2 linked regions of the Homo sapiens genome follow. The protein of the gene in region 1 interacts with the protein of each later gene in a biochemical or structural test. Each region holds a gene or a part of one and is shown in the gene's direction. Other genes may lie near its edges.

Region 1 (7,817 bases):
CGGTATAAGTTGCTGGGTAGAGATCAACTGAATTTATTTTTCCAGATGACTCCCTGACTTTCCCTAAACTGTGTGTTGAGTAACCTATCTTTTCCAGACTGGCATGAAATGACAGATATACAGAGGACCCTTGAACAACCTGGGTTTGAACTCCTCAACATGGACACTTATACACGGATTTTTCTCAATAAAAGTGACACCAAGAATGCCTGCCTCTCCTGCTCAGCCTTCCACTTCCTCTACCTATCTGGCCTCTGCCACCCCTGAGACAGCGAGACCAGCCCTCCCACCCCCACCTCCTCCTCCTCAGCCTACTCAAAGTGGTAACGACAAGGGTGAAGACCTTTATGAGGATCCGCTTTCACTTAGTGAATAGATTTTCTCGTAATAACATTTTCTTTTCTCTAGCTTATTTGATAAGAATAAAATAATACATGTAACAAAAAAATATATTAATTGACTGTTTCTGTTATTGATAAGGCTTGGTCAACAGTAGACTATTAGTAGTTAATGTTCTAGGAAAGTTAAAGTGTATTTTTGACTGTGCAAGGGGTCAGCACCTGTAACCCCTGCATTGCTCAAGGGTCAATTGTATTTTTTTAATCTCGCTCTGTGCCCAGGCTGGAGTGCACCGGTGATCATGTCTCACTGCTGGCTTCGTCTCCTGGGTTCAAGTGATTCTCGTGCCTCAGCGCCGAGTAGCTGGGATTACAGGCACCCGCCATCACGCCCGGCTAATTTTTGTATTTTTGTAGAGACAGGGTTTCACCATATTGGCCAGGCTGGTCTTGAACTCCTGACCTCAGGTGATCCACCTGCCTTGGCCTCCCAAAGTGCTGGGATTACTGGGGTAAGCCACTGGGCCTGGCTAACTTTATTTTTAAAGCTAGGCTTTCAAGCAATGTATTTTTCAAATAAGCTCCCAACTAGTCCACCGCCTCATCAACAAATAAGCCCTTACTGTATCTATAAAGTTCATTTTTTTCTGCATGTGCCAACCCTGATGGCATCTGGGTGATAGTTGTGACAGTGACCCTCTTGGAGTACTCCTAGCATCACCCTCTCAGGAGAGAAAGGCCAGAGAAGAAGCTACTTGAGTTGTTGATCTCAGAAGCCGTGTCTGGTAGTGTGATTGGGTCATATATTTTGGGAAGGCTGGTCTATTCTATGAATGCATTTCATCTATGAATTAAGCCCAAGCAAAATGTTGAGAAAGATGGTAAGGAAGTCTGCCTTCCCAAGAGTGAATGTGGTCAGTGATTTCAGATGCCTGTCACACCATCACTCCATAATGACAGCTGTCTGACTTCCTTCTCACAGCAATTGGACAATGTTCATTTTTTTTTTTGAGATGGAGTCTTGCTCTGTCTCCCAGGCTGGAGTGCAGTGGAGCGATCTCGGCTCTCTGCAAGCTCCGCCTCCCGGGTTCACGCCATTCTCCTGTCTTAGTCTCCCTAGTAGCTGGGACTACAGGTTCCCACCACCACATCCGGCTAATTTTTTGTATTTTTTTAGTAGAGATGGGGTTTCACCGTGTTAGCCAGGATGGTCTAGATCTCCGGACCTCGTGATCCACCTGCCTTGGCCTCCCAAAATGCTGGGATTACAGGTGTGAGCCACCGCGCCTGGCCTGCAATGTTCATTTTATTGAGATAACTGGAAATTTTCACCCACTCACAAGTCAACAAGTGGATGCAGTATAGTGTGTTGACAAAAGAGAAAGACTGGGAGGTAGGCGCTCCAGTTTCCTAGTCCTAATCCGGCGTATGTGGTAAGTGAGTATCAGGAGATGAATTTAATTTATTCTAGCCTCAGTTTTCCTCAGCATCTGTAGAAGGTAGTTGGACTATATGATCTCTTGACTTCCAGCTAAATATAAGACTATGATTCCATAATAATATAGTTCCTCTATTCATTTATAACTCATTAACAGAAAAATCGAGCCACGTGCAAAGAATTCTTGTAGTCATCAATGAATAACACGTGGTTATTGTGTTACGATGCCTATAAAATAAAAAAAATTATCTGGAAGAGGGAAACGGGATAGAGCAGATCAGTGTGACTTGAACAGAGACTATGCCAGCCTCCCTATTCCAAATTGGAATACTGGCTCTGTGATGTGCTATAACTGTATTGTGAGGCTTATTCTAATGATTTTGGTAAATGTTAAAGACTCCTCCTGGGGTTGTGTTGAAATAACACACTGAATGGAGATGGTAGTTCATAAATTCTTTTTCTAGTGGTGGCAGTTAGTGTTATTGTAGTCTTTTTTTTTTTTTTTTTTTTTTTTTGAGATGGGATCTTTCTCTGTCTCCCAAGCTGGAGTGCAGTGGTGGGATCTTGGCTCACTGCAACCTCCACCTCTTGGGTTCAAGTGATTCTCCTGCCTCAGCCTCCCAAGTAGCTGGGATTACAGGCGTGCAACACCACACCCAGCTATTTTTACTTTTTTTTTTTTTTTTTTTGAGACAGAGTTTCGCTTTTGTTGCCCAGGCTGGAGTGCAATGGCGTGATCTCACCTCACTGCAACCTCCACCTCCTGGGTTCAAGCAATTCTTCTGTCTCAGCCTCCTGACTAGCTGGGATTACAGGCATGTGCCACCATGCCCGGCTAATTTTGTATTTTTAGTAGAGACGGAGTTTCTCCATGTTGGCCAGGCTGGTCTCGAACTCCCGACCTCAAGTGATCTGCCTGCCTCAGCCTCCCAAAGTGCTGGGATTACAGGCATGAACCACTGCACCCGGCCTAATTTTCATATTTTTAGTAGAGACGGAGTTTCACCATGTTGGCCAGGCTGGTCTTAAACTCCTGACCTCAAGTGATCCACCCACCTCGGCCTCCCAAACTGCTGGGATTACAGATGTGAGCAACCGCGCCTGGCCAAACTTTTTTTCTTTTTTTTTTTAAGACTCTTACAAGACTAACTCATAGCAATATTCTGAAGCTGTGACAAGTTAGTATCCTGGAGGCTATCTTGGTAGAGGTTTCATGATGCCACCCTGATGCCACCTCTCTTCCTCTTTACAGTAGTATAACTCTTTGCTCTTATTTTTTCATAGCTTAAATTCTCATCCTAGCAATTCACGTATGCTTTACAAGGGATGTATAGGATTGAAACATTTTGAATTAATGATTTCAGAAAGGTGAGTTTTGACTAGGAGAAAGGAAGGTGGAGGAAAAAACATTCTCAGCCAGAAAACTTCTTTTTCCCAAAGTTCAAGATAAGAAAACATCCAACATCCTGTTGGAGGTAAGTGGGAAAGAAGTAGCAGTTGGAGCCTTGAAAGTCAGAAACCAATGAACGGAACAGCCTGAGTAATGGACCCGACTCGTGGAAGGCTGCCAAGCTGGAGAGTGAGGGGACGGAGACAGAAATATGGCGTGATGAGTTCGTGGGAAGGTCAAACTCGCTGGCCTTTGAGGAAGAGCTTTTGAGGTGCAACTTCCTGGCATGCAGTGAGCAGAAGGCAGGCCAGGACAGGAGCTGACTCCCGAGCAGGGGACACAGTGAATTTGTGGCATTTGTTACCAATCTCGGAGTTCACTGTGCACAGTCTCCACACTAGGCATTTACTTTTTCATATGTCCGAAAAAATGTCTGCACACTTCATTTCTGTCCAGTAAGAACTGATAATCAGGGATTTGAAGGGGCCTAGTTTGGAAATTTTCAATGGGTGAAAATAAGTGAGCAAAATTACATTTATACTAAAATATAATTCTTTCCATCTGCTCCATAGTGGGATAGCCTCTTGAGGCAACTTCCAATTAGAATGTCATTTTAGATGCTTTCCAAGATGGCAGATGGGTGAGTACTAGGGTGTGCAGGGAAGATCAATAAACAGCTCTGGCAATTCATCGTGCGCCTAACACCAAGGAATACTTCAGTGGAAGAGCTCTCATTTTGTTGGGATGAATAAAATTAAATAAAAGTACACAGTACCCAATAAAGGAACAAAAGCTTAGGCTTTGGTCAAGCAGAACAAAAGGGGCTAATGAGAAAAGGACTATGTATTACAGTTTTCTTCTCTCAGTTCTCAACTAGGTTTTATTAGTGGAGTTCCCAAAAGATTTGGACCAAATTTCCAATTCAGATATTATTAGAGATCATCAAAACTCAAATCTCTTTACTGGTTTACACCAAATCACCCAAGCTTCCAGCCTAAAACCCACATGCTCACATGGTTCCACAGTGCTGTTTATGTACAATAACCAGTTCTCAAAATGGTAATCCTGTTAGAAGCCAGAATCCTCAGCCTCTAGCATGTGTGCTTTTCACAGAGATAAGTCTCAAAGTTTGGGGTTGGTGAGGAGCCCAGTATACAGGAGTTCCACATTAAGTCATAATTGGCTTTGTGTTGGACAGTGTATGTCAGCTGGTGAAATCAGGCACAGAAGAGATAAGGGTTTCTTGTCATAACAACATAGGAACAGGTCACCCGCGTGTTACTCAAAACTGTAGGACGGCAGTGAGGGCTTTGCTAATCCCAGAACAGAGGTGTAACCTGGCTGCATATCCAGCCTCGAGAAAATGTCTACAGCAGATCTGATGGAGAACCTCAGGGAGGAACTCACCTGTTTCATCTGCTTAGACTATTTCAGCAGCCCAGTGACCACCGAGTGTGGGCACAGCTTTTGTCTGGTGTGTCTCCTCAGGAGCTGGGAGGAACATAACACACCTTTATCTTGTCCTGAGTGCTGGAGGACCTTGGAGGGCCCGCATTTCCAGTCAAACGAGCGTCTGGGGAGGCTGGCCAGCATCGCCAGGCAGCTCCGGTCCCAGGTGCTGCAGAGCGAGGATGAGCAGGGCAGCTACGGGAGGATGCCCACCACTGCCAAGGCGCTCTCCGATGACGAGCAGGGTGGAAGCGCCTTCGTAGCCCAGAGCCATGGTGCAAACAGAGTGCATCTCTCCAGCGAGGCTGAGGAGCATCACAGAGTAAGACAGCTGCTCAGCATGAACCCCACGACTCATCGCAGCTAACTCCGTTAGCTTTCCTGACGTTTCCTAACGTCCTCTGTGGGGGACAGTCACGAGGGCCCATCTGAGCACCACATCACAAACTGGCGTGGGTCCAGTTTACACCCTTTTTTTTCCCTTTTTTTGTTTTTGAGACAGAGTTTTGCTCTGTTGCCCAGGCTGGAGTGCAGCAGTGCGATCTCAGTCACTGCAACCTCCGCCTCCCAGGTTCACGCCATTCTCCTGCCTCAGCCTCCCCAGTAGCTGGGACTACAGTCACCCACCACCACGCCCGGCTAATTTTTTGTATTTTTAATAGAGACGGGGTTTCACCATGTTGGCCAGGCTGGTCTTGAACTCCTGACCTCAGGTGATCCGCCTGCCTCGGCCTCCCAAAGTGCTGGGATTACAGGCGTGAGGCGCCGCACCCAGCCTGCCCTTTGTTTTAGAGGCCTAGGACTGCGCAGTTACTGGTCTTCAAAGCCCCTTCATGACCTGGGACTCTGCTCATTTGCCAGAAAGGGTTTGTTTCTATTGCAGGAGAAACTCCAGGAAATCCTGAATCTTTTGCGTGTAAGGAGAAAGGAAGCTCAGGCTGTACTAACCCATGAGAAGGAGAGAGTGAAACTGTGCCAGGTCGGTGTCTGTCTGACTTTTGCTGCTTGTATATGACCCCATAAGGGGGACTAAAGGGAAATTTAGTGAAATATCAGGAAAAAAAAAAGACAAATTTTTCCAGTCTCACCTCTAAAATATGCAGTTTCCTTGCATTGGGCTGCCTTCTTCTGAGCGTCCTCGTGGGAGTCTCAAGGCTCAGCTGCAATTCGCCCCCTCTAGGAGCCTCCTTTGCATAACTAGACAACGCTGTGGCTTCCTCTATGATGGCTCTGGTAGAATTATTTAAAACACAAGTGATACTTATAGACATGTAACATGAGACGGAAAGCGATTTTAAAAAGAAATATCTCAAAAACATGGAGGGGAAAATGCAAATTAAAAAAAATAAAGAGACAGAGATATAAAAGCAAAATAGTGGTTTAAATGATACCTGACAAGTCCTCAAGGTTGGTCACGGACTTGGATTTGAGCTCTCCAGCAGTCAAAGCAAAGGACTAAATATCAAATTATATATTTTTTAAAACCATGTATCTGATTCTCCCAATAGACTTTGAAATCTGTTTTTTTTTTTTTTTTTTTGGAGATGGAGTCTCTCTCTGTCGCCCAGGCTGGAGTGCAGTGGCGCGATCCCGGCTCACTGCAACCTCCACCTCCCGGGTTCAAGTGATTCTCCTGCCTCAGCCTTCTGAGTAGCTGGGATTACAGACGTGTGCCACCATGCCCAGCTAATTTTGTATATTTGTGGAGATGGGGTTTTACCATGTTAGCCAGGCTGATCTCGAACTCCCGACCTCAGGTAATCCACCTGTCTCGGTCTCCCAAAGTGCTGGGATTACAGGTGTGAGCCACCGTGCTTGGCCGTAGACTTTGAATTCTTAAGTGAGAGTATTTGCCATGTATGTTTCTGTTCCTTTTTGGTTATCTGACACCTACTTTCATTGAATAAATATTTGTTGAATAAATGAACACACATTTTTCATAATTTTTCTTAATTTTGTTTTATTTGTATCATAGTCCTGATCACTACTTGTCATATTTCTTACTCATTTTTGGTTTTCTCCACTAGAACGACCGCCTCCTGGGAATGGAGATTTTGGTTTTGTTTACTATTGTATCTATAGCGCACATACCTCCGAAAACATCAACCTCTACACCCAGCGCATCAACAGATTAAATGTATTATATGTTGGATTTCAGGAATTGTTGCCATGAAACTCTAGGACTTGGCCAGGCATGGTGGCCCACACCTGTAATCCCAGCACTTTGGGAGGCTGAGGAGGGTGGGTCACCCGGTCAAGAGACTTGAGACAATCCTGACCAACATGGTGAAACCCCATCTTTACTAAAAATACAAAAATTAGCTGGGCGTGGTGGCACACTCCTAGACTATAGTCCCAGCTACTCAGGAGGCTGAGGCAGGAGAATCATTTGAACTCAGGAGGCAGAGGTTGCAGTGAGCCGAGATTGCGCCACTGCACTTCAGACTGGCGACAGAGTGAGACTCCATCTCAAAAAAAAAAAAAAAAAGAAAGAAAGAAACTCTAGGACTTGTAAGGATTAAAAATCTACAGACAAGGGCATTTCTCTTACTAACTTTATCTCGTGTGTGTGTGTGTGTGTGTGTGTGTGTGTGTGTGTTTTGGCAGGAAGAAACAAAGACTTGTAAACAGGTTGTTGTGTCAGAATACATGAAAATGCACCAGTTCCTGAAGGAAGAGGAGCAGCTGCAACTCCAGCTACTAGAACAGGAAGAGAAAGAGAACATGAGGAAGCTGAGGAACAATGAGATCAAACTGACCCAGCAAATCAGAAGCCTAAGCAAAATGATCGCACAGATTGAGTCCTCAAGTCAAAGCTCGGCTTTCGAATCTCTTGAGGTGAGAATAACATTCATGAGAGTAATGGGAAAAATTATAGTAACTCATAGTACTTCAAGCCATAGGAAATAATGTTTTCTTTATTCATCTTAAAAACTAAGTTCTGGTCCAAAAGTAGTTTTCCTAAAGAATTGACATTCTATATGTCAATAAAGCCTTATAGAAGAGAGAGAGAGAGAAAAAAAAAAACACATCCAGAGGAATAACTATCCCAAACAAGCCTGAGAGTGGCTTCAATTTCTTCTGTACCTGCCTCTCTGCAACCTCAGCTTTGTTAATTTTTTTTTCTAGTTTATTAATGTGTATTTACTATGTGCTGGGCACATTAAATTTAATCTTCACAAAGACCTGATGAAGATAAGTA
Region 2 (7,943 bases), on another chromosome or scaffold:
CAGCAGGTGGCTGGGGGACTGTGTGCAGCAGTTCGCTATGGCCTGCCTGTGGTGCCCATGTGTTTGTACGGGAGGGTTAGCTTGAGAAGGAATCAGATTATAAAAGGTCTTGAATGTCAAGCCAGAGAGTCCAGACTTTTTCCTAAGGGCAATGAGAAGCCATTGAGGAGTTCTGAGCAGAGTAGTAACATGATCAGTTATGCTTCTCAGAAAGATTGCTCCAGATCTTTCAGAAAGAAGCAGTGTAGGTTGATGAAAGGGAGGGACTGGCACTGGGGAAACAAGGTAGGAGGCAGGTGGCAAGAAATGCAAGAGCGACAGGACAGAGGGGTTAGGGAGAGGGATTAGGAAGAGATTAAAGATGTGGAATCAGCTGGAACAGTGGCTCATGCCTGTAATCGCAGAGCCTTGGAAGGCTGAGGCAGAAGGATCTCTTGAGGTCTGGAGTTTGAGACAAGCCTGAGCAACATAGTAAGACCCTGTATCTACAAAAAAAATTAAAAATTACCTGGGCAGGCTGGGCATGGTGGCTCATGCCTGTAATCCCAGCACTTCAGGAGGCTGAGGCAGGCAGATCACTTGAGCCTAGGAGTTTGAAACCAGCCTGGGCAATATGGCAAGACCTCATCTCTATAAAAAAAATACAAAAATTAGCCAGGCGTGGTGGCTCATGCCTATAATCCCAGCTACTGGAGAGGCTGAGACAGGAGAATCGCTTGAGCTCAGGAAGTTGAGGCTGCAGTGAGCTGTGATCGTGCCACTGCACTCCAGCCTGGGTGACAAGAGCAAGACCCTGCCTCTAAAAAACAAGCAAACAAACAAAATGTGGAATCACCAGGATTTAGTGACCAAATGCTAGGATATAGGACATTGGGAGGGAAGGATTCGAGATAATGGCCAAGGTTTGGGTTTGGTGGCTGGGTAGATAATGCTGTCATTCACAAGGATAGGGAAGAGGGAATGAGGAATAGCTTTTGGGGGAAGATCATAAATTCAGTTTTAGACAAACTGACTTTGAAGTACTTATAAAGCAGCTGGATAAAGGTCAGGGTTAGAGAGAGAGACCTGAAAGTTACCAGAATATAGGGAAGTGATAGCTAAAGCCCTAGAAGTAAACACCCAGGGAGAGCAGGGCCAAGGACAGAGCCATAGGGACACCATGGTTAAAGGGAGATGTGCAAAGAAGGCTCAGAGCATCAGTGGGCTCAGGCCAGGGAACGCAAGCTCTCTAGGCCGCCATTCTACACACAGAAAACTCGGTGCAAGGTTTACATATACCTTTTTAAAGTAACATTTAAAATTACTTCCTTTAATATAAAAGAAACACACAAGACACAAAGAAAGCCCAATAAAGCTGTGAGTCCCAGTTTGGTAGCTGAGGAGGAGTCTAAGAAAACAAGCCATTCCTCAGTATCCCTGGGAAAGAAGGGGTGAGAGGACACAGATATCACCAGGCCCTGGGTGACTGCATTGCTGGGGCCATGCAGGGCCTAGCTCTCCACCAAGGGAAAGTGCTGATTTTCCTTGTCATGGTCCTGGCCTTGCTCCCATGCTCGTCCTCCAGTTTTCAGAAGTCGTCCAGTTCCAAGAATGGCTCCTTCCTTTAGTTCACTAACATTTTCACTTAGGGGTGAAGGCCGCTTACCCTGAAAACGGCAGTGTATGAGTTGGGGGGAGTTGCTGTTCAGAAGAGGGAAGATCTGGGTAAAAGGGTCTCCCACCCTCTACGTTGGATATCCTAGTAACAGCTTGCACTTTCTCTTCCTTTACCTGTCGTAGTGTCAGGGTGCCAGGGGAGTTGTCATCCTGCAGGATGGTGAGGGGGGATCTCCCTAGTACCTTGCTGCTGTTTGGTTTCCATCTATTGCGCATAGAACCTGGGGTGGGTAAGGCGTTAAAGCAAGGACCCAAAACTAGGACTTACAGTTTATTCCTCCCACACTCACCCATGGACCTTATCCCAAAACATTATCCTAGTTTATCTTCCCTGCATCTTGCCTTAGATTCTGTACCTGAAGATCTGGGAGTCTCAGGGTCCCTTGAGGGCTTGTCGGAGCTCTGGCTGGCCACAGGGGTTTCTGTGGGCTGTCTTGCTTCCTCCTTGGAAAACACCTGTTTGGAGGGGAACTCAGTCTGGTTCCAAGGTGGCATCTGTTCCTCAACAGATAACTGGGTACCCAGAGGCAAGTCCAATTCAGAAGATAAAGGTGCCTCTGGGGGCAGAACAGGCTCTGGGGGAAGATTTGATTTAGAGTCTTCAGTTTCAAATACTTCACTCAGCTGTTTCACCAGTGGGCTTGGGGGGTCTAGAGGAAGAAAGTGAAGTGAACAGTGACCTTCTGATACACAACATTCAGCAAGGAGCAAAACATACAGAAACCCAGGACTCATGCCCAGGAGGGTGAGCAAGTGGGAAGAGAGAAATCAAGGAAATCAAGGTGAAAGGGAGCAATTTTTTTTTTTTTTGAGATGGGGCTTGCTCTGTCCCCCAGGCTGGAGTGCAGTGGCGTGATCACAGTTCACTGCAGCCTTGACCTTGTGGGCTCAAGCAATCCTCCCACTTCAGCCTCCTGAGTAGCTGGGATCACAGGCCCATGCCACCGTGCTTTTGTGTGTGTGTGTGTGTGTTATGTGTGTGTATTTTTTCTAGAGATGGGGTTTTGCCATGTTGCCTAGGCTGGTCTTGAACTCCTGGGCTCAAGCGATCTGACCACCCCGGCCTTCCAACGTGCTGGGATTACAGGCATGAGCCACCGCACCCAGGCTGGGAACAAAATATTGAGATAAGAGTGAGATGGGTCCGAAGCAGGAGGATAGAGGCCCCTTTAAGGAACCCTGAGAGAATGGCTTCATGGACCCTACCCAAGAATAATAGATGACAGCTTCATCAGCATTCCCTGGGCCCAACGCTTACCTCCACTGCTGGTCTTCATAGGTGTCCGTGCAATACCAAGAGTAGGAGAGCGGGGATCTGAGTCCTGGGCATGTTTAAGACCCTCCAGTTGCTCCCCTGCTGGTAGGCCTGGCTGTGGAGAGCTCTCCACCTGTCAAGACCATAGGCTAGAACAAGTCTGGGCCCTGACTCTTCTCTCCTCTCCTCCCCATATTCCAGGAAGGAATTGCCAAGGCCCTCAGATATCCAGCCTACCCCACACAGATTGAGATTGCAGAAAATAAGGCTAGGATAAGGGTGGGGTCATGACGGCTCTCTCAAAATCAGGTTAGGAAGAGACCCAAGAATTCAGACATTCTCTGCCTTTCCCACGCTGGCCCAGAGTACCTGGATGGGAGTGCGCAGGATGCCAGCACTAGGTGAACGGGGGTCCGCCACTCGAGCCAGATGCTTGTTGTGCGGCGGAGGCCGCGCTGGTGTGACTGGGACGCTCTTGGCTGAGCCCATCTCAACCAGGAGTTGCAGGGTGGGGGCAAGGGCCAGCCCGGGACGAGGAGGGAATGCCTGTGAGAAGTGACTCAGGTCTCAGCCCTTATCTCTTCCACGTCGGACCTTCAACCCTAAACCACCCTGTCTTCCCAGTTTCCAGTGAAGAAACTTCCTGGCGAGGGACCAGAGGCCTCTGCGGAGTTAATGACTGCTGCAGCTGACAAAATGGCTCGTTCTGGGCCTGCTGAGCCCTCTAACTTATTTATTAAATTATTCAAATCACTTACCGGGCCCCAATTCCACCTCTGGATGCACAACAGCTCGTGGCTCAACTCCCGAAGTTACCAGTTTCAAACTTCCCGCCACGCCCCCTGCCCTGACCCTATTGGCTGAGCCGACGTAGTTCCCATAGGCCCTCCACGTAAGACCCGCCTCGAGCCAAAGGAAGCTGTTGGTCTGGGAGAACGTCTATCATGGTGACTGTAGGTGTCAATGGACTGATGCTAGGCTTGCCCAGGGGTGACGCCTCCTTGATAAGGGTACTTCTGTTCAGTATCGGCCTGCGAGCCGTCCGTGGCAGGCTGAGGAGTGCCAGTCTTCGCTTTCGAGACGTCTAGTCTCAAGAACGAATTATTAAACAAAATAGAATCATGAGTGATTACACTATTATGCGCACATCCAGCTGGAGTTGTGATGGTTTTCCTGAGGCGAGCGATAGTAGCTTTATTGGTTGACAGCTGTATCAGTCACTCGACACAACCCCCTCAAGCTCCGCCTCACTGGATACCCCCTTTACAAATACCAAGACAACTGTCCCTCGACTTTCCGACCGGACAGGTCCCCAGGAAACTTTCTGGAATTGAGAGGCCTAAAACAACCGTCAGTTCCTGCTCTTCAATAGAAGGCACGCGAATGGACTCTAAGGGTCCCGGAGCCGGAGCAGCTGCGGAGCCGCAGCAGCTGCAACCCCGAAGCCCACCTAGCTGCTCTACGTGCGCTCCCGCCCTGGAGGAGTGGGATTGGTTCTTTCAACCATCAATTGCCTTAGGAGCGCTTCTCATTGGCGTCAGTCAAGCGCGGGGCAGGGGCGGAGCACCGGCAGGCAGGCTCCGTCCAACTGCCATTCTCGCGCGTCGTCTCCGCGGCGCATGCCCCTAACGAGTGGCGCTCATTGGACGGGAGGGGCAGGGGAGGGGACTGGGAACGGTGGGAGCCGCCGTGTGTGGAGAAGCTGCTGCCGGTGTCATGGCGGAGCTGAGTGAGGAGGCGCTGCTGTCAGTATTACCGACGATCCGGGTCCCTAAGGCTGGAGACCGGGTCCACAAAGACGAGTGCGCCTTCTCCTTCGACACGCCGGTAAGCCCATTCCCCACGCCCGCAACGAGCACGACTTCCTTCCATCGCCCTGGTCATTCCGCTGGGGCCTGCAAGGCTTGGGCTACCGCCTCCCTGCGATGCACCATGGGACTTGTAGTCTCCCACGCTCCACTCTGCCGTTGCCTTTCATTAACTGCGGCTGTCGTGTGACTACCGTCCCCGGAAGCCGCCGCGCTCACCTCTCCGGCTCCCCGCTTCGTGGAGCACTGTGGGCATTGTAGTCACTCACTGCCTTCGTTGCCGTTCTAAGCTAGGGGCGCAGCCCGACCGTCGGACTACATCCCCCAAGTGGACCCTTGAGAAAACCTGGCAGTCGGCCTTGTCTGCCGCGCACGGCTCTCCGGGTTTTGTAGTCTCGTGTAGGAGTGATGGGGACGACTCCCCACTGTTCTCGGCCGGGGTTGGAGTTGGGGGGTGGGGACCGCAGTTCCTAGGCGGTTAATAGTCTGGGAGTGGACTCTCAAGAAGTCCGATTCTGAGAAAGGCAGAGAGCCTCCACCCCGTGGTTAAAACAGACAGGGGGCGGGGAGGGGAGGAAAGAGGAGAGGAAAGCTCTAGTCGTTTCTCCTTTGAAGTGAGCAATGGCCGCAGCCCCCACCCTTCCCCCCGCCCCCCAGCCTATCACAGACAGCTGAGATAACCCCTTTTAAAGTATTCCTAGAGAGGTGGTTTCTTTCTCGGAGGATGCTAAGGCCTCTTTCCCATCCCGCTCCCACTCTTGGCTAGTTACACAAAGCCACCTCCCACACCATGCTTCACGTTTTGCAGGCTCCACCTGGTACCTCCCTTCCTGCAGTTCTGCCTTCCCTATGTCACCCTCAAGCGGAGGCCCTTTGGGGCCTGAACTGAGAAGGCAGCAGCTTGGTTGGGATCCGCCCCCCTCACCACCCCTCCCCTCAAGCTGCTGTGCCCTGCCCAGTGTATTCTGCCAGAACCAGCTCATGGCCTGAAAACTGCAAGTCAGAGTGGAAAGCCTTCATTACTGCATCACCAGTACTGAGTAGAACAGCATGATGTGAGGCCCAGTTCAGGATCATCACTGTGATTTGTGGTTTGCTTGGTTTGCTAGGCTTTGATCTGGGCCTCAGACAATGTGCTGCTTCTCTGAAGTCTGGCTTTGGCAGAGGTAAAAGAGCACTGCGCGGAGCAGAGCTCCGGGGTTCCCAATCCTTGGTGAAATCAGCATCTTTAATTTCCAACAGAGGAGTTTAATCACTTCAGAGCTCCCACATTCTTCCCAGGAGGGAAAGGTTTTTCTTAAATTACCAGCAGGTGGTAGAAGTCAGTGGGTCCCTCTTTACACTTTTATTCACTCCTGTCTCTCTCCTTAGTAACTGCTTTGAATAATCCAAAAAGGGTTTTTGTAATCTTCTGAAACTTTCCCTTTTTCACCCCAAGTCAAGAGATTTTCAGTGTGCCCTAGTTCTTTGCTAACCAACTTCCAGCATATTTGGTTACCTTCAAATTGGGCTCATGGTAGAAAGAGCTTAGTTGACCTCCCCGGTGAGAAATGCTCTATTTGTTCATGAACTTGCAGTACACACTGTTCCTAGGAAGTGGTACAGAGCAATCTATGGGACCAAGAACTACCTTAGACAGTGCACTATTTTTCATATCACAGCAGAGAAATGTTCAAGGCCACTGAGACTTTTATTCCTGGAAGAGGATGTCTGTTGTTGCTCAAAGCCTTGGATCTGAGGGAAGACCCTTATTGTCTCCAATTTCCTCCTCCACCTTCTCCATCACTCTTTACAAAGGCACTGGAAAACTTGGTCAGCTTTGGGGGAAGCCCATCCTCCCTTCTCAGCTGTGTTTCTGGGTGGACACCCGTCTGTCCCTGTTTTCACGGGTTATGTGTGTTCTAGCTATCTCAGCAAGTGTTGCGAGATTGTTGTCAGAACGGGATGGCTTTGAGATTGGTGATTTGTTGGGACTTCAGCAGGGATCTTATTGGTCGGAGGGGAGGCAGAGGAGAGAGGGTGGTGGCTATGGAATGCTGGACTTCATGACCCTGCCAGACTGGGTGCATGTTTAGCTGTGAGTCCCTAACAAGTCATTGTTCCCCTGGAAGCCACACTTCAGCAGGAGAGGAGGGAGAAGACTCACAGTGTGGACCAGGGTTCGACTACCTGGTAGAATGTGGTAAAAGAAAGGTCTTTTTCGCTGGATGTTTAGTCTCACCGCTGTAATCCCAGCACTTTGGGAGGCCAAGGTGGAAGGATTGTTTGAGGCCACACAAGTTAAAGACCAGCCTAAGCAACATAGCGAGACCCCACCTCTAAAAAAAAAAAAAAAAAAAATCTAGGCATGGTGGCATGTGCCTGTAGTCCCAGCTCCTTTGGAGACTGAGGCAGAAGGATCACTTGAGCCGGGGAGGTTGAGGCTGCAGTGAGCTATGATCGTGCCACTGCACTCCAGCCTGGGTGACAGAGTGCAGTGTCTCTAAAATAAAATTTTTTTTTTTTTTAAAGGAAAGGTAATTTTGCTTGCTGGCACACTCGGGTCAGATATACTGTTCAAGTGCTGGAATCTCTGCTCCTCTGGTCTGGAAGGTTTTCTGAATCATGGAGATGAGATAGGGTTTGTCTTAGGTGTCCCCTGGTTTGGGTTCAGTGTCTCACATGAAAGTCTTTCCTCTCCCACGAAGGGACCCTTTTTCCCTTTGAATGTAATCTCCAGCACTGGAAGTCCACAGTATTTGATCCCCATTTACTTTCTGGATCTGTTAGCCCCAGGATAGAGGTGAAGGAAGTCCTCTGTGATTGATTAAAGAGCTCCAAAGCCCAAGAAGGAGCAGGTGGAAAGATAAATGGTGACTGGTGTTGCTGTTGAATGGCGACGATGAGCTGGTGTTCCTCAGCCCCCTGATGTCCTTGTTGGTTGTTATCAAAGTCATGGGAGGAAATGGGGAGAATCTTAGCTATGTCCCAGGTCCTAAAAGGCTAAATAACTTGCCAAGGGCCACACAGTGTTAGAGAACAGAACATTTCTTCTGGAACCCAGCAGTTTCTGACTCCAGGTTTTGGTTTCCTCACCTGACCAGGCTTCATAACATCCTCGTGTTTTCACCCTTACCTCTTGTCCCACAGGAGTCTGAGGGGGGCCTCTACATCTGTATGAACACGTTTCTGGGCTTTGGGAAACAGTATGTGGAGAGACATTTCAATAAGACCGGCCAGCGAGT

The links. The genes of interacting proteins can lie anywhere in the genome.
Region 2: the proteins of TRIML1 (region 1) and USP5 form a complex in vitro, tested with the Homo sapiens proteins (one study listed by BioGRID).

What each region holds. Positions count from the first base shown.
Region 1 is NC_000004.12:188,135,030-188,142,846, forward strand, and holds the start of TRIML1 (probable E3 ubiquitin-protein ligase TRIML1), read left to right. Parts: upstream 1-4,411; 5' UTR 4,412-4,529; coding exon 4,530-4,937; intron 4,938-5,498; coding exon 5,499-5,594; intron 5,595-7,222; coding exon 7,223-7,453; intron 7,454-7,817.
Region 2 is NC_000012.12:6,847,553-6,855,495, forward strand, and holds the start of USP5 (ubiquitin carboxyl-terminal hydrolase 5), read left to right. Parts: upstream 1-4,597; 5' UTR 4,598-4,627; coding exon 4,628-4,738; intron 4,739-7,802; exon of another isoform or gene 7,803-7,848; coding exon 7,849-7,943. Other genes in the region: CDCA3 (cell division cycle-associated protein 3), read right to left, coding at 1,491-1,646, 1,771-1,877, 2,013-2,306, 2,915-3,044, 3,281-3,400. UniProt on the Homo sapiens protein: Deubiquitinating enzyme that participates in a wide range of cellular processes by specifically cleaving isopeptide bonds between ubiquitin and substrate proteins or ubiquitin itself.